Regions from separate parts of the Homo sapiens genome. Here all the other regions are linked to region 3. The links come from fine-mapping of genetic effects on gene expression. A gene starts in region 3. Each other region holds a variant in brackets. All regions are shown on one strand. Distances are from middle to middle. Region 1 overlaps PGPEP1L (pyroglutamyl-peptidase I like). Region 2 overlaps PGPEP1L (pyroglutamyl-peptidase I like). Region 3 holds the start of PGPEP1L (pyroglutamyl-peptidase I like).

What was found. PIP is the estimated chance that this variant, and not a neighbour inherited with it, causes the effect.
Region 1: its variant is the best candidate, but not a certain one, in a credible set for the expression of PGPEP1L in esophagus muscle (GTEx, PIP 0.56).
Region 2: its variant is the best candidate, but not a certain one, in a credible set for the expression of PGPEP1L in atrial appendage (GTEx, PIP 0.88).

What each region holds. Positions count from the first base shown.
Region 1 is chr15:98,962,721-98,970,547 of GRCh38, reverse strand. It overlaps PGPEP1L (pyroglutamyl-peptidase I like), which reads left to right. Exons shown (of 5, transcript NM_001167902.2): 4 at 897-1,123; 5 at 1,851-2,319. The coding sequence starts at 915. The coding sequence ends at 2,070. It overlaps IGF1R (insulin like growth factor 1 receptor), which reads right to left. Exons shown (of 21, transcript NM_000875.5): 21 at 6,018-7,827. Among named protein-coding and RNA genes, the nearest start is that of PGPEP1L, 41 kb to the left of the region's middle. The variant T/GT (reference allele first, on the strand shown) is at 1,973.
Region 2 is chr15:98,976,186-98,981,185 of GRCh38, reverse strand. All of the region lies in intron 2 of PGPEP1L (pyroglutamyl-peptidase I like), which reads left to right. Among named protein-coding and RNA genes, the nearest start is that of PGPEP1L, 29 kb to the left of the region's middle. The variant T/G (reference allele first, on the strand shown) is at 2,753.
Region 3 is chr15:99,002,717-99,013,625 of GRCh38, reverse strand. PGPEP1L (pyroglutamyl-peptidase I like) reads left to right here and starts at 5,834. Exons shown (of 5, transcript NM_001167902.2): 1 at 5,834-6,267; 2 at 7,970-8,197.

The DNA of each region.
Region 1 (7,827 bases), 42 kb after region 3:
ACCCCAAACAAGGACCAGATGTGATGAGGTTAATAAAACATACACTATCAAGCCATTCAGACAATGCCCCAGATGTTTTGATAACATACTTGGGCAGCTATTTTTCAAAAAGGAAAAATAATCAGCTTGAATAAATTCTAAGAAGATTTCACTGGATGGCCACTAACTTCCTTTATTAAAGTTTCATTTAAAAAAAGATGCAGGAGGCGGGCACGGTGGCTCCCACCTATAATCCCAGCACTTTGGGAGGCCGAGGCAGGCGGATCACTTGAGGTCAGGAGTTTGAGACCAGCCTGGCCAACATGGTGAAATCCCATCTCTACTACAAATACAAAAATTAGCTGGGCGTGGTGCACCTGTAGTCCCCGCTACTCGGGAGGCTGAGGCAGGATAATCACTTGAACCCGGGAGGCAGAGGTTGCAGGGAGCTGAGATGGTGCCATTGCACTCCAGCCTGGGTGATACAGCCAGACTCTGTCTCATAAAAATAAATAAATACATAAATAAAATATAAAATAAAAAGATTCAGGATTCCACCAAAACACGAAGACTCTGCTGTGGTAGCCTCACCACTTACTAGCTTGCCTCTCCTCCCTCCAACCCTCCCCCCACAAAAAGAGAATACATTACCCTGTAAGAATAATTTGAAGTAAAAAGCATTTAAATGTAAATGCAGCATGAGTTTTTATTCAGCTAAAAGAATCCAGCTGTTTTTCTTTCCAGCCATATTAATTAGGAGACACTGGTGGGGGATCCTGGGGTTTCCCAGTGGATTTGGGGTTTGAGATGTTTTGCACAGAGCCGGGCTCTCAAAAGGAGTGGCCCCTTCTGCACATTTGGTGAGCAGGGTGGGCCTCGTTTTCCTGGGTTCTCTCTGCTGTTACCCGTTCACACAGCTCGTCGTGCATGTGGGCATGGACACCGCCGCCAAGGCGATCATTCTGGAACAGTCTGGCAAGAACCAAGGCTACCGGGACGCCGACATCCGCAGCTTCTGGCCCGAGGGCGGCGTGTGCCTACCTGGCAGCCCAGACGTGCTGGAGTCAGGGGTCTGCATGAAGGCAGTCTGCAAGCGCGTAGCTGTGGAGGGTGTCGACGTGATCTTTTCCCGAGATGCAGGCAGGTATGCTCTGTGGGTGTCAGGACTCTGAGCAGGTAGGAGAGAAGCAATGGCCGTCAGCGTCCCCCCGACCTCCAAGAAGCCATCCTGTATCGTCCAGCTGGCCACTTGGCCATGCGGTGCCGCCCCCAGATTGCCCCTCTTTGCTGTGTGCAGGCCAGCACAGTTGCTCACACCTTGCCTGAGGTCTCGTTTGTGAGACCTGCCTGTGGAAACACGGTCTTTGGTGTGTTGATCTAGGAGAAGAGATGGGAAGGCAGACTTCAAGAGCCACTAACATTTCGTGAATGTTTTCTGATTTTGATTTTTGGGGTGACCGAAGTTGTGAGTTAACTGTGTTGATGTAGCCCCAGATAAAGATTGATTTACCTTTGTTTCTCCAAACTCCGATCCCCAGTAGGTGGTTTTTCCCCTTTCCCCAGTGAATGAATGAGTAAGTGACTCAACGAAGACATGAATGAGAGGGATTCACTGGGATGCAGGTGCTGTGGAATATCTGACCCCTTTCTGCCTTGGCCACTTGCCGGTCATGAGGCCATGAGGCCAAGAGCCAGCTCTCCCCAGCTCATCCTGGCACCATGTTCTTTCTGAGGTGAAACAACACAAGTCTCCCTTGGGTGGCAGTGCTCCCTCCTCAGGCTTTGTGGGTGTTGCATTGCCACTTCTGCGTATGTTTCACTGAGGTTAGAGGCTGGTCCGAGAATTAATGTGGCATTTCCTGTGGTTGCAGATACGTCTGTGATTATACCTATTACCTGTCTCTGCATCATGGAAAGGGCTGCGCGGCACTCATCCATGTCCCTCCACTATCGCGCGGGCTCCCGGCCAGCCTGCTGGGAAGAGCCTTGAGAG[T/GT]CATCATCCAGGAAATGCTGGAAGAGGTGGGAAAGCCCAAGCACAGAGCCCAGTTCGAAGAAAACTCAACCATGGTCCTTCCAGCCAAAGGGAACTGACCGGGGGATTGCTCCTCTAGAGAAAATTGAATGTTTCAATCCTGTATGTAGCACTCAACTGTGCATTGAGAAACTTTTTCAAAAATTGCTTGTAAGACAAAGAGGGTGGAAAACTCTGAATTAGCCCAACAAAATCACAAAGGGTTATTTTATTGTCAGGAGAAAGAACACTCTGAAAGGTGGACATTTCACAGGGGATGAACTAGCTTCAGTTATGGTTTTCATGACAATAAAATGAAATCCGAGTCATCTGTTTTCTTCCAAAAATCTACACAGTGGGTCTGTGTGATCCTGCGCAGACTGTGGGGACCACAGACCTGTTTTGGAGATGCTTACAGAAGCACAGAGACAGCCGCTGCTCCAGGGACCCCATTCCTGGCCTTTGAGCTTGTGTGTCCAGGTCCTGGGTAGCCTCGAAGCCACCGAGGCTCTACTGTATGATTTCTCTGTCTCTGTGTTTGCCCCTTTTACTACTCATTTTAATAATTTCAAGCATACAGTTCAGTAGTATACAGTACATTTCCTTGTTGTACAACCATCACCACCATCCATCTCCAGAACTTTCTCCTCATCCCAAACTGAAACTCTGTACCTATTAACTCCCTATTCCTTCTTCCTCCCAGCACTTGGTGCTCACCACTCCACCCTCCATCCCTATGAATCTGACTGTAGGTAGCTCATATGAGGGAGTCATGCGGCGCTGGTCCTTCTACATCTGGCGTATTATTTCAGCCTCATGTCCTCCAGGTTCATCCATGTTGTAGCATGGGACAGGATTTCATTCTGTTGAAGGCTGAATAATATTCCAGTGTATGTATGGACCACATTTCATCCATTCAGCTGTAGATGAACACTTACGTTACTTGCTCCTTTTGGTTCTTGCAAATCATGCTGCTACAAACACTGGCGTGCAAATATGTATCCGAGTCCTTGCTTTCAGGTCAATCTCCAGAGGTGAATTCCTGGATTCAATGCTAATTCTGTGTTTAATTTTTTAAGGAACTGCCATTTTGTTTTGCACAGGGGCTGCACCATTTTACAGTCACACTGGTAGTGTTTGGTTTGAAGGCGCAGGTTAATAGCCGGGCTTAGCTTCTCTCCATGGTGTCTTCCCTTTTTAAAAGCAGAATCTCCTTTCTGTTTCATGTTTTGTTTTGCTTTTATGACACAGCACCGGGTCTTGTGCCAAGCTTCTCCCAGCAAGATTCTACCTGTTCAGTGTTTTCTAGGGGCAGATTTCCTTTGGGAGTCCCATTGGTAACATCGCTTTTTTTTTTTTTTTTGGAGGAAGTGAGTGAAGGTAGGTGAGCTCTGGGAAATTTCTTGTTACGTTGGTGTGCTTACAACTACCATTTTTCACTTGACTACATTTAAAAAATTCATCAGTTAGTGTTTGGATTCATTCACTATTAAGAAAAGCATTTGCAGCTTCCTAACAAAGGAACCAGGCCAGGCGCAGTGGCTCACACCTATAATCCCAGCACTTTGGGAGGCTGAGGTGGGCGGATCACTTGAGGCCAGGAGTTCAAGACCAGCCTGACCAACATGTGAAACCCAGTCTCTACTACAATTACAAAAACATTAGCCGGGTGTGGTGGTGGGTGCCTATAATCCCAGCTACTTGGGAGGCCGAGGCAGGGGAATCGCTTGAACCCAGGAGGCGGAGGTTGCAGTGAGCCGAGATTGCACTATTGCACTCCAGCCTGGTCAATAAGAACAAAACTGTGTCTCAAAAAAAAAAAAAAAAACAAACAAAAACCCACAAGAAAACCAAAGGAAGCAGTCAAGGCCGCCAGCACGCTTTTTGCATTTGGAGTAGCCTTTAGGGGACTCCCTTTGCAAGTACACCTGGATCATTTGCTAGAAAACAGATCAAAGCCCACATATTGGGGGATGGGGGGAGGTGGTGCTGGGCGGTGTGCACAGGTCTGGCTGCATGGTTGCTAATGTGGAGATCTGTCTCTGCTATGGGCAATTCTGTCCCAGGACACTGGCAAGCAAGGGGCCCCCAGGACTGGGCTCCAGTGTTATATTTCAGACTGCCTGGCAGCATGCCATAACATTTTTTAAATTTTTAGATATTATCCAGTTGGGAGGCCCAGAGCTCCCTCTTCAAGAACTTCCCCATCATTTCCCCCCGCTGTGGCCCCTGAAGTTCTCCAGGGAGAACCCCAGAAGTCTCATTCACACCTGGGCTGTGTACTTCACCCAGCATCCCTTGTCAGTATGCACAGAGCCTGCTTAGTTCTGGCAGTGCTGAAGCCAGATTGAGAACCACAGCAGAAAAGGCTGAGAGGCTGAGTCCTGAGTTGGTAGCTGGTGGGGAGGTGGGGGGGCGGGGGAGGGGTCTTGAGCATGCCTGTATGTTTGCTCATCTGTAAGAGTAATTAAAATCCTTCCTTTGCAGGGTGATTGTGAACATCTGGTGAGAGAATGGATGTGAAGGTCTTTTTAGCAACATTAGAACACTACAAAAATCACACATCTGAGTGAGTATGGACTCATACCTGGACTTGGGGGGTAAATGCAGAAATAGCTCTTGAGGGCTTGCAGTCTTAAGAAATGGCCTGGAGGGGAAAGGTTCTAATGCTTCTGAAGACCCAGCACCTTCATCCTTAGATATTGCTGCTCCTTCTGGCTGGGCAGGCCAAGTGCAGACTGCACTGTGGCAACCTGGAAGGGCAGCATCTACCTGACCAGGGAAGGAGGAGGCCCTGTTGGGCTTTCCAGCCTCAGAATTGAGACCTCCTCATCATCAGTCACCTAATGAAGATCCCCTGAGTGCCAGGCACTCGGTGACAACACTGAGCAGTAACCCTGAAGCAATGCCAAGCTTGAGTACCCTTTTTGAGACAGAGTCCTACTCTGTCACCCAGGCTGCAGTACAGTGGCACAATCTTGGCTCACTGCAGCTTCTGCCTCCTGAGTTCAAGAGATTCTCCTGCCTCACCCTCCCAAGTAGCTGGGATTACAGGCACCCGCCACCATGTCCCACTAATTTTTTGTATTTTTAGTAGAGATGGGGTTTTACCATGTTAGCCAGGCTGGTCTTGAACTCCTGACCTCATGTGATCCACCCACCTCAGCCTCCCAAAGTGCTGGGATTACATGCGTGAGCCACCGCACCCCAGCTGAGAGTCCCCTTTCAGAAAGGCCTTTGCTTTTAGGTGCAAACACTTCTGAGGCTCAACAGGTCTGAAGTAACCATGGTCTTCGGTTTACTTCTACCTATACATTGCTGGACAGCTCTTCTTCTACTGGCCCGATTTTGCTATTGGAGCATAATTTCCCATGATAAAGTTGAAGGAAATGACCAGCTTCTCTGCCTGATGTGTCTGAATCCTTAGTCTGATTCTAGAACACACCTTGCCATACATGCCATTTCCCCTGACAAAAATAATGTTTACATTGTAGGGTCCCTAGGGGCAGACAGAGATCACTGAGCAGCAGCTAGAAAGTAACTAGGACTTTGGAGCTCCTCCAGTGACCCACATTCTGCGTGAGGCCCACTGGGTTCTCACCAGCATCCCCCCGAGGTGGGCATGTCAGCTGTGAAAGACCAAAAAGCACATGGGAAATGTGAAGAACTGAAGTCCTCTGCCTTGGGGTCATGCAGATCAGACTTGCCTTGGCCTGACTGTTGTTAGTGGAAGGTATAGGAAAAAAGTCTACAAATCAGTCGGAACTGCAGTACAGAGTTTCGTAATTTATGTATTCAAATTTCTTTCCAGATGATTTAATGGAGGGAGAAACAGATAGCTTCCCTGTCGTCTTTACTGGCAATCTGCATGCTGAGAAAGCTCAGCTGTCAGAGAAGAGGCAATGCTTTTCTGGAGAACGCTTCCAGGCAACATGCGTGAACACACGTGCCCCACATAGCTCAGCTTCCCTGCCACCAAAGTGTAGTGATGCTTCCAGGAGGGACAAAACCAAACCAGAGACAGAAATGCATACAGAATTATTTTATTTAACTTAAACCATGTAGTACTTTACTAGAAAAAAGCAGAGTAAGAGAAACTAACGTTGCCTTAGCTTCAGCCATTCAAAATAGACAGTTTCTTTTTTCCATTATGTAAAGAATCCAGAGTATATCGCAATAACAGGAATAAATTCTTACAACAGAATATACAAAAACATTTTGAAATTTTTTTCATCTACTGATTTTTTATATAAACAGGATTTTTTAGGAATAATTTATACACAGAAAGTCATTTTATGTAACAAATTGGCCATGTTATTACCTTTTTTTTTCTTACTTAAAAAAATTTTTTTTTAACAAGAAAACTCAGAAAATGCATTATTTGCGGTGCATCCATTCCATCCCGCCTTCTGGTTTGATTTTTTTTATCCCAGACAAAGGGATACCCAGAGGTAGACAAACTCTGGCAAACCTCTCACCTCAACCTCACTGGCTTAGAAAGCAGACAGGTGTTTTCACCGGGCGTCTCTTCCACCGGTGGATGTGTGTGTGCAACGCCAAACATCCAAATGAAAAGTTGAAAACAAAACCCAAATAGTTTCCAGATCTTTCTCCTATGTAGCGCAAAAACCCCAGGTGTTTCCCATGATAGAGATATTGTGGAGTTGGGGAGACATGGCCAACAATCCACTGGAGTTAGAGGAAGTGGAGTCAACTTTAAAACCAATTTTTGTGTATGTTATAGTTTTTATTAAAAATTCTTTTCTGTATTGGAAATACGTATCTTCGGGGTTCTGCCTTAAATAAAATAGGGTCTCTTCTGTGTTCTAACAAAGCAGTAATCAGTCATGATACGAGGCATGTAAGCAAATGGCCTGTGTGCCCCATAGCTGTCATCGTTTATGTGATCACTGTGTATGCTGTAATCATCATGAAAACCATTGGCTGTGCAGTCAAGTCTTCCCATGTCCATGGCACTGTGCTGACAATGACGGCAGCCAGACCAATCAAGCCAGATGCCGAACGGTGCCATGCACTGCTGGGCTCCAACACCTCGGCTGTTTCCATGGCCAATGAGGTTCTTTCCATCTGTTAAAGTAGCTACACTCCAAAGGGAAATGACCAGTAAAAAATGATCCCCTTCCCAACCAGAGGGTTCTGGAAGACCAAGATACTGAAGATACAGAACTACTTTTTAAATCATCATCATTCCTTTGTTATAAACTAGGGCAAAAAGCATGGGGGGAAAAGAGGGTGAACCACGGATGGGGTCAGGGAGAAATCCTTTTTTGGCATATTGTAAAGCTAGCTAGTAAACAGGTGTCCTAAAAAAAAAAAAAAAAAATGGATCACAAACACACATTTGCACACACAGAGAAAAAAAAAGTGTCTTTAAATTATTTTCGGCAATTATAAACTACAAACATTTTATAAAATTATTCTGTTCTTACAAAAATGCAATGAAACATTTAATTAGTTCTTGTAAACCAGATCTTCGTCAACTGACTACCCGTAATCTACTGGACTTAAGAGCCCTATTGAAAACGCTAATGAGTGACTAGTTAAAACAATGTTGACCAGAAAGATGCGGACACACACACGTGGGACATAAAAATGAGTGATCGTTATGTTCTCGCAGAAACAAAACGCTAAAGTCATGCCCCAGAACTGACAACTGACGAGTGCGATGTAGTTTGTGTTCTTGAACAATTCGCCTTAACTCCGAGATCAGTTTCCAGAGTAGGATGTTAGGTTTCTTTGTTGAAACCAAATGCCCACGGATGACTGCTGAGCCTCGATGTGGTCTGATAGCTTCAAGAACAATCAAGTTCAAAACC
Region 2 (5,000 bases), 29 kb after region 3:
TGATGGTTTTGAAGAGTCTGGCCAGGAATTGATAGTTTGTTCCTCAATTGGGACTTTTCTGCTGCTTTTCTCATGATCAGACTGAGGTTAGGGGGAGGAAGACAGAGGTAAAGTGTCACTTTCATCCTGTCAGATCAAGGGCACACAGTATCAGTGTGACAGCACTGTCCATGATGACCTTGATCTTACTTGGTGGAGGGAGTGTTTGTCAGGCCTCTCTACCATACAGTTAATTTTTTTTTTTTTCCTTTTCCAGATGGAGTCTCTCTGTGTCACTGAGGCTAGTGTGCAGTGGGGGTGATCTTGGCTCAGTGCAAGCTCTGCCCCCCAGGTTCGAGCAATTCTCCTGGCTCAGCCTCCTGAACAGCTGGGACTACAGGCACATGCCACCACGCCTGGCTAATTTTTGTATTTTTAGTAGCGACGGGGTTTCACTCTTTTGGCCAGGCTGGTCTCAAACTCCTGACCTCAGGTGATCCGTCCACCTCGGCCTCCCAAAGTGCTGGGATTACAGGCGTGAGCCACTGCACCTGGCCACCATACAGTTACTTTTTGTCCCCACTTCTATCCTGTCCTCTTTGGAAGGAAGTAACTCTGCGCAGCCCACACTCGAGTGGGGGAGTTCCTCTCTGCTTCAGGGTAGAGGAGTTACATCGGTTACTGGGAGTGCAAGTGCATGAGAGAGCTGAGTCCTCCTCCTGGACCCACTTACTTATTTGTTTACTTATGTATGTAGTCATTTCATTAGATCAGGATGGACTCATGAATATTTATTTCTCATATTTTGGCCTATGGCTTGTTTCCTTTTGAAAGTCTGTCTCCTCCTGAAACCTTTTCCTCCCCCCTCCTCCCTTTACTATCCTAGGACAATGCCTCCCTGATCGTTCAGGTTTCTCTGCTCCAAGGGAAATGGCACGAGTCCACACTTTGTTTTTATGGCTGTGTGTTTAGCTGTATTAAAAGTTAGACTAAGTTGGACACTTTTCATTTATTTATTCTTTATTTTCATAAGTTTTTGGGGAACAGGTGGTATTTGGTCACATGAGTAAGTTCTTTAGTGGTGATTTGTGAGATTTTGGTGCAGCATCACCCAAGCAGTATACATGAACCCAATTTGTAGTCTTTCATCCCTCACCTGCTTCCCACCCTTTCCCATCGAGTCCCCAGTGTCCATTGTATCATTCTTATGCCTTTGCATCCTCATAGCTTAGCTCCCACTTATGAGTGAGGACATATGGTGTTTGGTTTTCCATTCCTGAGTTACTTCACTTAGAATAATAGTCTCCGAGGCAGGCAGATCACAAGGTCAGGAGTTCGAGACCAGCCTGGTCAATATGGTAAAACCCCATCTCTACTAAAAATACAAAAATTAGCCGGGTGTGGTGGCACTCGCCTGTAGTCCCAGCTACTGTGGTGGCTGAGGCAGAAGAATCGCTTGAACCCGGGAGGCAGAGTTGCGGTGAGCCAAGATTGTGCCATGGCACGCCAGCCTGGGTGACAGAGTGAGACTCTGTCTCCAAAAAAAAAAAAAAAAAAAAAAAAAAAAAAAAAAGAATAGTCTCCAATCCCATCCAGGTTGCTATAAATGCCATTAATACATTTCTTTTTATGGCTGAGTAGTATTCCATCCTATCTATATACCGCAGTTTCTTTATCCACTCATTGATTGATGGGAATTTGGGCTGGTTTCACATTTCTGCAATTGCAAATTGTTGGGCACTTATTAAATAACCACACTACTTATATATAGAAGTCTGTGCTGTGTTGCTATGTGCATGTCCTCCTGTTCTTGTACTCATCGCCTACCATATTTTATTGATGCAAAGAGCCAGGTGTTTTTTGGTTTTTTTTTTGTTTTAATTTTGGCATCCTGAAATCAGATGAATCTCACAGGCAGCTGCATCTTATGCTTTGTCATAGTTGAGCAGTACTTTTACTGTCTTGCTGGTTCGTACAGTAATGCTCGATGTTCCATCTCTGGGACTTAGATTTGATGAAATCCATCACATCCTTCCTGGGTTACGCACTCTGTCAGCATGGGAAACAGTCTGACCTGTTTATCTTGTTTCACAGAATCCAGACCAGAATCTTGAGGGCATTGGGGCTATATTTGTGCTGCCATAAATGTAATAAAAATATATATATATATATATCCTGTAGCCAGGCGCGGCGGCTCACACCTGTAATCCCGGCAGTTTGGGAGGCCAAGGTGGGCGGATCACGAGGTCAAGAGATCGAGACCATCCTGGCCAACATGGTAAAACCCCATCTCTACTAAAAACACAAAAATTAACTGGGCGTGATGGCGCGTGCCTGTAGTCCCAGCTACTCGGGAGGCTGAGGCAGGAGAATTGCTTGAACCCGGGAGGCGGAGGTTGCGGTGAGCCGAGATCATGCCACCGCACTCCAGCCTGGTGACAGAGCAAGACTGTGCCTCAAAAAAAAAAAAAAAAAAAAAATATATATATATATATATATACACAGTCTAATGCTAGAGAAAAAGACACAAATAAGTGGGGCCCTGGAAATCAGGCAGGTTACTTAGGGCAGCAGAATGTCTAATTTGGTCCAGGATTCAGAAGATAAGTCTTAGTTCTTTTCCGTTCTACACAGTTTTTTTTGGGGAAAAAACAAAAAAGGGAAGTCTACTGGGCAAACCTTTTCTCATCTCCATCCTCACATCCACTTCCATGGTACAAATCTTGAAAAATGTCAGCATTACATTACAGATGCCAAATCTGGGATTCCAAAA[T/G]CCAGTAGGCCTGCCTGGGCCTGCAGGCTGTGAGCCAGTTTGAGATGCCATTAATTAGGTCCCTGGACTCTACACTGACATCTGTAATCACAGATGATTACTCCATACCCCAGACCAGCCTTGGGAAGTTGCACCTCTCAGGGGTGCCCCGACTCTCCCAGTTTCGGGTTCCACTCTGGGCCCTAGTGCTCACACACAGCGCCTTCTCTTTCATCAGGGAAGCATGTGTGCTGCTGTGTTTCCTCTCTTGCAGGCATTTGCAAAATTATCTAGACAGGGACTAATGAACCGAAAAGATCTCTGGAGGTGAAATTTCAGGCACTGGGTCCCCAAGAGATGGGGAAATGGTTGGGGAGCCACAAGATGCCTTTTGGGCAGCAGCCCTCAGCCAACAGCCTGCTGGGCTCACCCTATTTTTTGCCCACTTGTAAGACTATTCCTGACCTTTACCTCCCTTGAGAGCTGTGTTCTAGAGCTCACAATGTGGAGTCAGAATGTCGTGTAGCAATTAGGTATTAAGCATTCAATGAACCATGGTCAATAAATAAGACATAATAGATGTAAACATTCATGCTCCTAATAACAGTGCTTGTAAAATACGTGCAGCAAAAACTAATAGAACTTTAAGGAGAATAGATAAATTCACAGTTAATAGTCAACGATTTCAGTACCCCTCTCAATAACGGACAGAACACATAGACCAAAAAGGATACAGCAGACTTTAACAACACTACCAACCTACCAGACCTCATTGACATTTGTAGAACACTCCACCCAGCATGGAACACACTCTCATATGTGCATATGCAGTGTTTGCCAAGACAGAGACTATACCCTGGGCCATAAAACCAGTCTGAATAAATTCAAAAGGATTCAGGTCACATAAAGTGTGTTCTCTGGCCACAGTGGATTTTAATTAGAAATCAATAACAGACATCTGGAAATTTCCTAAATTTTGGAAACCAAACAAGATACTTCTAAATAAGCCAGAGATGAAAGGAGACATAAAAAGGAAATTAGCAAGCATTTTGAAATGAATGAAAATTAAAACATATCAGAGGGAAATTTATGGCACTAAACAATATTATAGCAGAAGAAAGTTCTCAAATCAGTGACTTTGATTTCTATCTTAAGAAACTAACAGAACAAATTAAACTAAGCAGAAGAAAGGTAATAGTAAAGATGAAAGCAGAAATCAATGAAGTAGCAGAAATATAACAATAGAAATCAAACCAAAACCCAAAAGTTAATATTTTGAGAAAATTAATAAAATTGATAAACCTTCATTTAGATTGATCAAGAAAAAAAATAAAAGACCATTTCTATTAACTTTTAAATATATTTACCATGGCCTGGCCTCCAGGCCTGGTTCCATACTCAAACTACTCTTATCAAAGTCACTACAGACTTGTTTTTTTTTTTTTTTTTTTGCCATTTTACTTGACCTCTCTAGGGTCCTAATAATCATTATGGTGGATACAGTATTGTTGTACCCATTATACAGGTGAGGAGCATGAGGCCCAAGTTGACCAGGCCCTCCTTGTTTCTCCTCTTGTTAACTTGAAAGGTTGCTGTGATAATTCAGTGAAATAAAATAATAATCTGTAAAAATGTATTATCTCCACTAAAATTTTCATGTCTTTACTCATGTCTCTGAGATGCAGCAAGTAAACATAATCTACTCATGAGCTTCCCTTACCAAGACCATGCCCTCCTCCAGCCAGCTCACCGTGCTCAGGCCTCAGCCACCAGAAAATTCTGGAGTGGCCACTGCCCCTCCTTGCCTCTTCTGTTCCTAGGAAAACATCTATGTTTTGATCTGGGTTTTTGCAATACAGCATTTATATGGGAATAATTGCCATCCATAATGATTTCTCTTCAGGACACCTCAAGTCCTGAGACATTTTCAGCAAACCAGCAGCTTAAATACTGTTAGGCTTCAGATTTTATTGTTGTGATATGAGAAAATGACTTTTAGATTGTGATTCCATAGAACTCTAGAAGGCTTTCAGATATGGAAAAGAGTATGCTTAGTTAAAATCCCAACTTAATTATTATCCCTGAGGGATGTTAGCCTGAGCTAAATGATTTACTACGGATTTAGTCTTCGTTCAGAGCAAACTTTTTAGTCAGGTTAAAAAATGTTGGTGATGGTGAAAGCCATAATTTTCTTAAAATTATGGTAAAATATGTATAACATTGATGTATAACATTAAATTTACCATTTTAACCCTTTAAAGTGTACAAG
Region 3 (10,909 bases):
TCCCAATGAATGCGAAGGGCTGTGGAAGCTCGGGGGGCTGCCTTCGCTCACTAGAAGCAGGGAGCTCCCTTCTTCCCGGTTTCCCCTTCCTTTAAAACAGATTTCTTTAATCATTTCTACGTTTGTCCTTTCGTTCAGTCCTGTAATGACGGTCTCAAGTAGTAACAATAACTGTCGTAGTGACGGTCTCAAGTAGTAACGGTAATAACTGTCATAGTGACGGTCTCAAGTAGTAATTGTGGCAGTCAGCCACAGGCACACAGGACTAAAGGTTCATTAATGTCTGCTGTAAAAATGTAGAATATATTTCTTCAAGGTCTGAAGTATACATTTTTTGATGTACGTTTTTGTTACATTTTTTAAAGTTCTCTTGTTTTTAAAAAATAACATGTATAGGGCCGGGCGCGGTGGCTCATGCCTGTAATCCCAGCACTTTGGGAGGCCGAGGCGGGCGGATCACGAGGTCAGGAGATCGAGACCATCCTGGCTAACACGGTGAAACCCCGTCTCTACTAAAAATACAAAAAAAATTAGCCGGGCGTGGTGGCGGGCGCCTGTAGTCCCCGCTACTCCGGAGGCTGAGGCAGGAGAAGGGTGTGAACCCGGAAGGCGGAGCTTGCAGTGAGCCAAGATCGCGCCACTGCACCCCAGCCTGGTCAACAGAGCGAGACTCTGTCTCAAAAAAAAAAAAAAATTACATGTATAGAGCTTGAACAGTTCTTTTAAAATATGTATGTGTGTGTGTGTGTATACAGTATATATAAAGAATAATGAACTGAAAAGTTCCCTGCTTCTCATTCAACTCCTATATCCAAAGTCAGTATTAGTCAAATACCTCCTCTTTTCCTTTTAGTTTCTGAGTTTTGCGTCTCGCATGAGTATTTTGAAACTACTCCAAAACTAGAAAATAATTCTTCTAAATTTACTTCCAGTATTTTTACTGTCTTGATTTTCAGATTTGAATTTTAATCCAATCATAATTTACTGACCTATATGGCATAAGGAATGGATCTAGCTATATCTCATGGTTCCCACACCATTAAATGGTATATTCTTTCCGCTACTAATTTGAATTATCTCTTTAACTATATATTAAATTCTCATACACATTCTAGCTGTTTTATTGACAGTTTTCCTATTTCTACAACAACACTGCACTATTTTAATTACCCTAGCTTTTAGCATATATTTGGATATCTGGGAAGGCAAGCCAGTTGCATCTAGTCTTTAACATCGGTTTGCATTAACATTTTTAAAGTTTCGAATCTTCCCATTACAGAACATGGCATCCTTTGTTTTATTCGGGTCTTCTATGTTTTTTTCTTAAAGTCCCACAGTTTTCTTTTCTTTTTTCTTTTCTTTTTCTTTTTTTTTTTTTTGAGACAGAGTTTCACTCTTGTTGCCCAGGCTGGAGTGCAATGGTGCGATCTCGGCTCACTGCAACCTCCTCCTCCTGGGTTCAAGTGATTCTCCTGCCTCAGCCTCCTAAGTAGCTAGGATTACAGGCATGAACCACTACACCTGGCTAATTTTTGTATTTTTAGTAGAGATGGGGTTTCACCATGTTGGCCAGGCTTGTCTGGAACTCCTGACCTCAGGTGATCCACCTGCGTTGGCCTCCCAAAGTGCTGGGGTTACTAGCGTGAGCCACCGCGCCCAGCTAATTTTTGTATTTTTAGTAGAGAACAGGGTTTCACCATGTTGGCCAGGCTTGTCTGGAACTCCTGACCTCAGGTGATCCACCTGCCTCGGCCTCCCAAAGTGCTGGGATTACTAGCGTGAGCCACCGCACCCCGCCAGTTCCACAGTTTTCCACAAAAGGATCTCATACATTTCTTGCCAGGTTTATTCCTAGAGATTTCTGATATTTGAAGGGCATTGTGGATGGGCTCTTTTCTCCAATTACATTAGAATTAGTTATTGCTGATATATAAGAAAACTCTTAGGCCCTGAGAGGTGGCTCCCACCTGTAATCCCAACACTTTGGGAGGCCAAGGCAGGAGGATTGGTTAAGGCCAAGAGTTCAAGACCAGCCTGAGCAACATAGCAAGACTCCATCTCTACAAAAAAAAAAAAATTGAAAAATTAGCCAAGCATGGTGGCACACACCTGTGGTCCCAGCTACACAGAAGGCTGAGGCAGGAAGATCGCTTGAGCTCAGGAGTTTGAGGATGCAGTGAGCTCTGACAGTGCCACTGCACTCCAGCCTGTGTGTCGTCAGAGAGAAACACTATCTCTTTAAAAAGAGAAAGCTATTAGCTTCAGTATATACCAGTCTCATATCTAACCATTTTTAAGAGGTCCAGTAATTTTTAAAAATCAATGATCATAAATATTATAATCGGATTGTCTATAAATAAGCTGGATCGCTAAGCCTTCCTCAAACCTACTCAGCCACTTAGCACTCACTTCTGACACGAAAGTTACCTTTGGCCCCAGTCAAGAAAAAAAGAAAAATGCCTCTTACATGTGTATACTGGAAAATAGCGGCCCCTCGAAGGCCTGGTGCATGTTTTAGTGTGGCCCCTCTTCCATTCCAAGAGGATATTAAGCTCTCTGCTGCACCCTCCATCTGGCCTCATTTGTCTACACAGGAATTTCCTCAGTGTTAAGAACACAAATGTTCCAGTCATTCCTAAGATATTTGTGAAATTTGAAAGAAAAATCCAGTATTTAAACAATAGGGGTAACAAGCTACTGGATTTTAACAAGTAGAAAACTTCCTTTTGCAACAGTTGTTACTTTGCAGTCAAGGAGCTGTAGTCCCTAAAAAAAAAAGTGATCAAGGCTTAGCAAAAGTCTGAGGGAAAAATATAAGACAGAAGAAAAATAAAGACAAATCCTTCTCCTACAAAATGTAACAGAAATATCACCTTGCGACAGAGTCTCACTCTGTCGCCCAGGCTGGAGTGCAGCATGCGATTTCGGCTCACTGCAAGCTCTGCCTCCCAGGTTCACGCCATTCTCCTCCCTCAGCCTCCCGATTAGCTGCGACTACAGGCACTACTAAAATTAGCCGGGTGTGGTGGTGCACACCTGTAATCCCAGCTACTCAGGAGGCTGAGGCACGAGAATTGCTTGAACCGGGAGGCGGAGGTTGCAGTGAACCGAGATTGCACCACTGCACTCCAGCTTGGGCCACAGAGTGAGACCCTGTCTCAAAAAAAAAAAAAAAAAAGTCTACTACATTTATTCATTTATTTTATGGCCCTTTTCAGAAATCGTGTGCTGGCTGGCCCCTGCTGGGGTACAAAGCTGCAGAGGCAGAGGTATAGAGGAGGGTGAGTTCTGAATCTGCCTTGGTAGAGTGACATTATTGGAGGATCCCTTAGTGCTTTGACAAGAAGCAATTTGGCTATGGGTTGTGTTTTATAGTAGAGCTAAGTCGCTTATCTGGAAACAGTGATGTTTGACATGGAGAAAGACTTATGTTATCATTATTTTGGAAATCACAAGTGCTTCTTGCTGATTGATTTATTTTCTCCCCACCTCCCAAAGGAATTTGACCAGTTTGATTAAATTTCATTTATGTCAAGTGTACAAAATGTGTTGTAAGAGCTGTTTGTGTCAGAGACAGTAAACAAACCCCTTTAATCTTTTTTCTTGCGAGAGCAGGAAGTCACCACTTGCCAATGAGAAATTTAAAACAAATCCCACAAAGTTTTGAGTTTAGTTCAGCACGTGAAATAGTTGAGGTCTTGGGATCTTGTAATCTTGGCAACTCCCATTTGCTGTCCCTGGTGAGAACACTTGTGTACCGTTGCTTACTTTCCGGTTCACTAAGAGGGTCGCACCTTGCCCTCTTAATCCTAGAGTCAAATCTGATTACAAACATTTTCCTCTCGGGAATCCCGCTTGTAAGGAAGATCACTGTGCTCTCTGTTAAATAAAACAGCTCCATTTAGTTGCCTTATTCGTTCTCAGGCTTACTGTATTTCATCAGCCTAAAGACTGTGTTTGACATCAATTATTAGAGACCATTTGTTTTTACAATGGAAAAAGAAATAAAAGTGCAGATGTTGAACCTCAAAATCCATACTTCTCAGAGCTATTTTCATTCCAGAAAGTAGGAATGTGCTGGGGGGTTCTTGTGTGGGGAGAGGGGAGGTGAATGAATACAAAAATAGACATATCACTGTGACTAAGTAAAATATTTTGTGTTGTTTTTTCTATTAATTTCAAAATTAGAGAAAACTTTAGAACAGAAAAAAATAAGTGAATTATGGGAAAGTGAAAACTGCAGGACACATTCCAGTTTAGTTAAAATAATAGCTCCTGTCAAATCAAAAAAAAAATGATGAAAATTTCAGCTTTGTTATCAGAAAAGTAGTATGGTTAAAGATGGGCAGTCTTTGCACTTAAGGAGTCTCCTTAAACACAAGTTCCCATTCCCAGACCTCATAGGTGAATGTTGATAGCAGAGTTGGACCCTAGCAGCAACCAACTTTACAAATGTGGGCATTTCTGGACGGGCGCGGTGGCTCACGCCTGTAATCACAGCACTTTGGGAGGCCGAGGCAGGTGGATCACGAGGTCAGGAGTTCAAGACCAGCCTGGCCAAGATGGTCAAACTCTGTCTCTACTAAAAATACAAAAAATAGCCAGGGCTGGTGGCAGGTGCCTGTAATCCCAGCTACTCCGGAGGCTGAGGGAGAGAACTGCTTGAACCTGGGAGGCGGAGGCTGCAGTGAGCCGAGATCGCGCCACTGCACTCCAGCCTGGGCAACAGAGCGAGACTACATCTGAAAAAAAAAAAAAAAGAAGAAGTGGGCATTTCTTAATGGTCCAATCTCTTCCTTTAACTGTGCAGAGGAAGCCAAGCCCCCACTGAGAGGTGACAACATGCTGGTAGGCCTCGCAGCCGTCACTCACTCTCGGCTCCTCTGCCTGGGCTCCCACTTTAACGGCACTTGAGGAGCCCTTCAGCCCGCCGCTGCACTGTGGGAGCCCCTTCCTGGGCTGGCCAAAGCCAGAGCCGGCTCCCTCAGCTTGCGGGGAGGTGTGGAGGGAGAGACGCGGGCGGGAACCGGGGCTGCACGCCGCGCTTGCGCGCCAGTGCGAGTTCCGGGTGGGCGTGGGCTCGGCGGGCCCCGCACTCCAAGCAGCCAGCCCGCCCCGCCGGCCACGGGCAGTGAGGGGCTTAGCACCTGGGCCAGCAGCTGTTAGTGCTCGACTTCTCGCGGGGCCTTAGCTGCCTCCGTGCGGGGCATGGCTCGGGACCTGCAGCCCGCCATACCTGAGCCTCCTCCCCCGCGTCATGGGCTCCTGCGCGGCCTGAGCCTCCCCCACGAGTGCCGCCCCCTGCTCCACAGGACCCAGTCCCATCGACCACCCAACGGCTGAGGAGTGCAGGCGCACTGCACAGGACTGGCAGGCAGCTCCACCTGCGGCCCTGGTGCGGGATCCACTGGGTGAAGCCAGCTGGGCTTCTGAGTCTGGAAGGGACTTGGAGAACCTTTATGTTTAACTAAGGGATTGTAAATACACCAATGGGCACTCTGTATCTAGCTCAAGGTTTGTAAACACACCAATCAGCACCCTGTGTCTAGCTCAGGGTTTGTGAATGCACCAATCGACGCTCTGTATCTAGCTACTCTGGTGGGGACTTGGAGAACCTTTGTGTCCACACTCTGTATCTAGCTAATCTAGTGGGGACGTGGAGAACTTTTGTGTCCAGCTCCAGGATTGTAAACGCACCCATCAGCACCCTGTCAAAACGGACCAATCAGCTCTCTGTAAAACAGACCAATCGGCTCTCTGTAAAATGGACCAATCAGCAGGATGTGGGTGGGGCCAGATAAGAGAATAAAAGCAGGCTGCCCCAGGTAGCAGTAGCAACTTGCTGGAGTCGCCTTCTGTGCTGTGGAAGTTTTGTTGTTTTGCTTGTTTGCAATAACCGTTGCTGCTGCTTACTGTTTGGGTCCGCACTGCCTTTATGAGCTGTAACGCTCACCGTGAAGGTCTGCAGCTTCGTTCTTAAAGCCAGCCACATCACGGACCCACCGGGAGAAACGAATAACTCCAAACACGCCACCTTAAGAGCCGTAGCACTCATGATGAAGGTCCGTAGCTTCACTCCTGAAGTCAGCGAGATCACGAATCTGCCAGAAGGAAGAAACTCCGAACACATGCGAGCATCAGAAGAAACAAACTTGGGACACGCTGCCTTTAAAAACTGTAACACTCACCGCCAGGGTCCGCGGCTTCGTTCTTGAAGTCAGTGAGACCAAGAATCCGCCGATTCTGGACACACCATGACGGAACTAGGTAAGTGATAGGAGCTAGGAGAGCTGCTCACCAGAGGAGGTAGAGACCAAGTCTACAAGTGCATCCGGGGTATATTGAGAAACCGGGTAACTTCTGTGAAATGAGGCAAAGTACAAAAATCCTCTGCATCCCACTCATGGCAAGGTGGGCCCAGCTTCTCAGGACAGGGAGTGGGAGACTAGTGGGAGCAAATGGCGCTTCCCACCTGTTGGCAGTGAAGAGGCCTGCAGCCCACACCAGGAGCTAATTAAAGGGAATTGTTCCTGGTTCAGAATCCCAGAAAGCCACCAAGGGGGGTCTAATCCGCGGGGGTGATCCCAATTAAAAGGGAGCGCTTTATATCAGGAGGACAATTCAGCAGATGGAGCCACGTGGTCCTGCTGTCACACTGAGCTCTCTAGAGGCCGCAGGGTGCTTGAGAGGCTCTGCCTGCTTCCCTGAAGGGAGCTTCTCCTCCCCAGACCTAGATGGGGACAGAGAATCATGGGTCTTCTTCCTCTTAATATACAGCTTCAGGAAAAAAGTATTTTCAGTTTAAAAAAAAGTTTAAGAATATTTTTAGAGACAGGGTCTCACTCTGTCACCCAGGGTGGAGTGCAGAGGTGCAGTTACGACTGACGGCTCAAGTGATCCTCCCGCTTCAGCCTCCCTGAGAAGCCAGGACTATGGGCATATACCACGTTTTGAAAAAAATAATTGATGCAGTCTTGCCACGTTGCCCAGGTTGATCTTGAACTCCTGGCCTCAGGCTATCCTCCTACCTTGGCCTCTCAAAATGCTGAAATTAAAGGCGTGAGCCAGTGCACCTGGCCAAAAGTTTGTTTTGTTTTTAAATAGAATTCTCCGAAAGATCAAGATATTGGAAAACAGCTTTTTCGATAGAGGAAATAGCCTCAAATGTTAGCCTTTTTCAGTTATTCTGACACATTAAAAAGAGGACTGTCTGCAGAGCCAGGTGGCATGCCACGGCTGTGGCTCACTGTCAGTGGCATGTTTAAGGAGTCCAGCACAGTGTCAAGAAAGCACTTTTCGCAGGTAGAACGCAGGGTGGTGAGCACAGAGCTAGCAAGCTTGCACAGACGCTAGCTAGGTGGCAAGCCTCTGTTCCTCAGGGCTGATGAAGCTGGGGACAGTGCCTGGGGCACAGAAAGAATCCATACAGGATCCGGTGCTGCGATCCTCGTTTCTCAAAACAGGAAACCTGAGCACAGAGGTTAACTTCCCTGAGGACCCACAGCTCCTAGGCAGCGGTGCTTGCAATCAATATTTTAAAGGCAGGCGCCATAAGATTCATCTATGGTTTTCTCTCTTTTTTTTCTGCTCACATCTCACATATTTTGTGGAATTAGTTTTCAGAGCAATCAAATTTTACCAAATCATAATGGCCAAACACAATGAGGGGCTCTGGCAGGGATTACTAAAGAGGAAAAAATAAGATCTAAGTAAACGACTTGTAGGGTAGCCCACAGTTCCTAGGACAGTACCTCTTTGAGCACCATGTGGTGTTCCGTCCCAGACATCCTTCTGTCCCAGGCAAACCGGGACAGCTGGTAGCCAAACCCTTAGCTCACCTTTGAACCATCCTGAACAACAAAGTGACCCAGACTCAAATGTCCAGAAAGTCCCTGCTGGCGCTCCAACCCGCTGTCCTGAGCTGGATCGTTCTGCTTTCAAGGGGCATTGCTTTATCACCCTCCCCTAGATCCTTGGCCTTTCGGGGCCCAGAACGCTACGGACGCCGGGCGGCCAGGAGGGGTTGGGCTCCCGCTCCACCCCGGTCCCCGGCGAGCACGCGGCCAGGCAGAGAAGGTGCCCGGAGCTCAGAGCGCGCAGAGCCCGGCCGCTGGGCCGCTGCCTGAGCCAGGGAGGCGCAGCGCGAGCTCCCACTTCGTCTTCATGGATTCCCAGCCCAGCTGCGTGGTGGTGACTGGTAAGACTACATAATTTTTTTCTCTCCTATTTGTTGCTGCTTTTAGCCTGCCCCTGGAATGCGCACTGGCCTGATCCTGGGTCTTAAATAGTTCCCTGAGGGAAAAAAAGAATGGCAACTGGTGGTGCTAATAATTCCAGATGGAAACGAACTTGCTGCTGTGCCCTATTAATAAACAATCAGGATCACAGGCATTTCTGCTTCTGTGGCTCATTCGCTTCAAGTAACTCTCGAGTGGCGGGCACGAAGGTGCCACTGGTGGCTTAGGCTCAGACCTTGCCTTTCAACCCAGCAGGGAGGAAGCTGAGGCTGGTACCTGTTTTCCCTGAGTGGGGCCCGAGGCACGTGAGGTATCCCTTGGGGGTGCAGGCTCATAGCAAGGAAGAGGGATCTATACGCCCAGAAACCACAGGGCCCTCACAAGGCTTGCAAACCCATCTACAACAGCCACCCGCAAAGGAACACACAGTCCCCACTTCCAGAGTAAGAACTTCCATTTTTCAGGGAGCTGTGAAGCACCCCCCGAGAGCCACTAGCTGGAGACCCTGAGCCCCAGAAGGTCAACTTGGAAGGAATGGTGGCTGCTCACTCCTGCAAACACCAGCACATCCAGAGTCACCCCCACCCACACTTGCCTCACCAAGTCAGCATCCCAGCTGGTCCCTGGGGGCCTGATCTTCACAAAGGTCTTTATTTTTATTAATTTTTTTTTGAGACAGAGTCTTGTTCTGTCGCTAGGCTAGAGTGCAGTGGCGTAAGCTCAGCTCACTGCAGCCTCCGCCTCCTGGGTTCAAGCGATTCTCCTGCCTCAGCCTCCCGAGTAGCTGGGACTACAGGTACGCACCACCACGCCCAGCTAATTTTTGTATTTTTAGTAGAGATGGGGTTTCACCATGTTGGCCAGGATGGTTTCGATCTCTTGACCTTGTGATCTGCCCGCCTAGGCCTCCCAAAGTGCTGGGACTACAGGCATGAGCCACTGCGCCTGGCCCTATTTTTATTTTTATATTTTTAATTTTTCTGAGACAGTCTCCCTCTGTTGTCCAGACTGGAGTGCAGTGGCTCAGTCATAACTCACTGCAGCCTCAAACTCCTGGGCTCAAGTAATCCTCCCACCTCAGCCTCTGGAGTAGCTGGGACAACAGGCACTCACCACCACACCCCCCAATTTATTTTATTTTAGTTTTTAGTAGAAACAGGGTTTTCCTGTATTCCCCAGACTGGTCTCTAACTCCCGGGCTGAAGTGATCCTCCCGCCTTGGCCTCCCAAAATGCAGGGATTACAGGCATGAGCCATCATGTCCAGCCTTCATTTTTAGTTAGACACATTTGGCCGGTTTTAAGTTTTCTGAATTGTGTTGGATGAAGAGGCAGGGTTTCCTGGATGAATGGGAAATTGAAAGTTGTGTCGCTTAATCTTTTCAGACTATAATTCTAACTCCTATCGACCTTCAGAGAAAAAGTTCTTTGGGAAACCTTTTATCTCCCTTGCTCTTATTTGTGTTATTTTGGTTCTGGAGATTGAATGGTTCAAATTACTCTTGAATTCCTAAGGAAACTGTACTCTAATGCATGCAATGCTTGTCATGAATGAAATATGAACATTGAAGCACCATCTTAGAATCACACTGACCCCTGCCTTTGTCTTGTCAGCCTGTGGTTTGCTGGCAAACTGGAAATTGTTTGATGAAATACCTGATAATCAGCCATGATTTGGGAATGCCCGCTGGATTCCAGAGCGTGGCCTTCCTGTGTTAGAAATGCTTAGAGCTGCCAGGGGCAGTCTCTTCATTTAATTGGATTTGCTTCGTGTGTAAATCTCCTCAAGACAATTGGCATGTAGACAGATGGTGGGAGAACGAGGGCTCCGACAAATTGCTTCGAGATCAAAGTGTTCAGACTGGCACCAACGATAACCACAAGAGTGAGAAAACGTGCATCCCTCCCACGGGCCTCTCAGAATTCTAAGATTTCTCCAGCTCCGTTTGCAAGTTGCACTGGGGGCTGACCAAGTTTAAAGTGAGGTTTGAACTTGAAACACAAGAGCTTCAAACCTTCACTTGCAGAGTTGATTTTTCTAATTTAAAACAGATAAGAGATGTCATATTTGCTGATACAAATATGATTCTAAAGCAGAATGTGATTTTTGTGTGTGTTGCTGCATTTTTATTGTATTTTTATTATCCCAGGAGGTACCTGGCTTCTCAGTGCTTTTTTTTTTTTTTAATCTCACTATTTTCTATAACTGCCCTTTTTTTTTTCTGGCTGTTTCCAAGGGCAGCTAAAGTCTTATTTATTCTGAAGGATTTGGTTGAATCAGAGGACACCATGGGCTTTTTGGGACGTTCTGTCCAAAACTGTTTCATTCCCTCAGAAAGTTTTTACTTCCTCATGAGCCAACCCTGTTTGTGGGTCTAGACCCAGATGTTCAGGAATTGCAAAGGTATAATTCAAGTTTCTCTCCAGAACTGGTTCCTAGTCTAAAGGCCTGAGGTCCAGGGAGCTGGGTTCTCAGAGACTGACATTTAGTCACAGCCCTTTCCTCATCAAAGAATATGAATGACTTGAGAAATATGTCACAGGAATCAGAGGTGGAAATGTCACAGGAATCAGAGGTGGAACTGAAAACCTCAGCTGTACTCCGGGATAAAGCTGAGTTAGAGAATTCCACTTGTATCTGCAGCCCACTTAATTGAGCACCTGACTCCATCA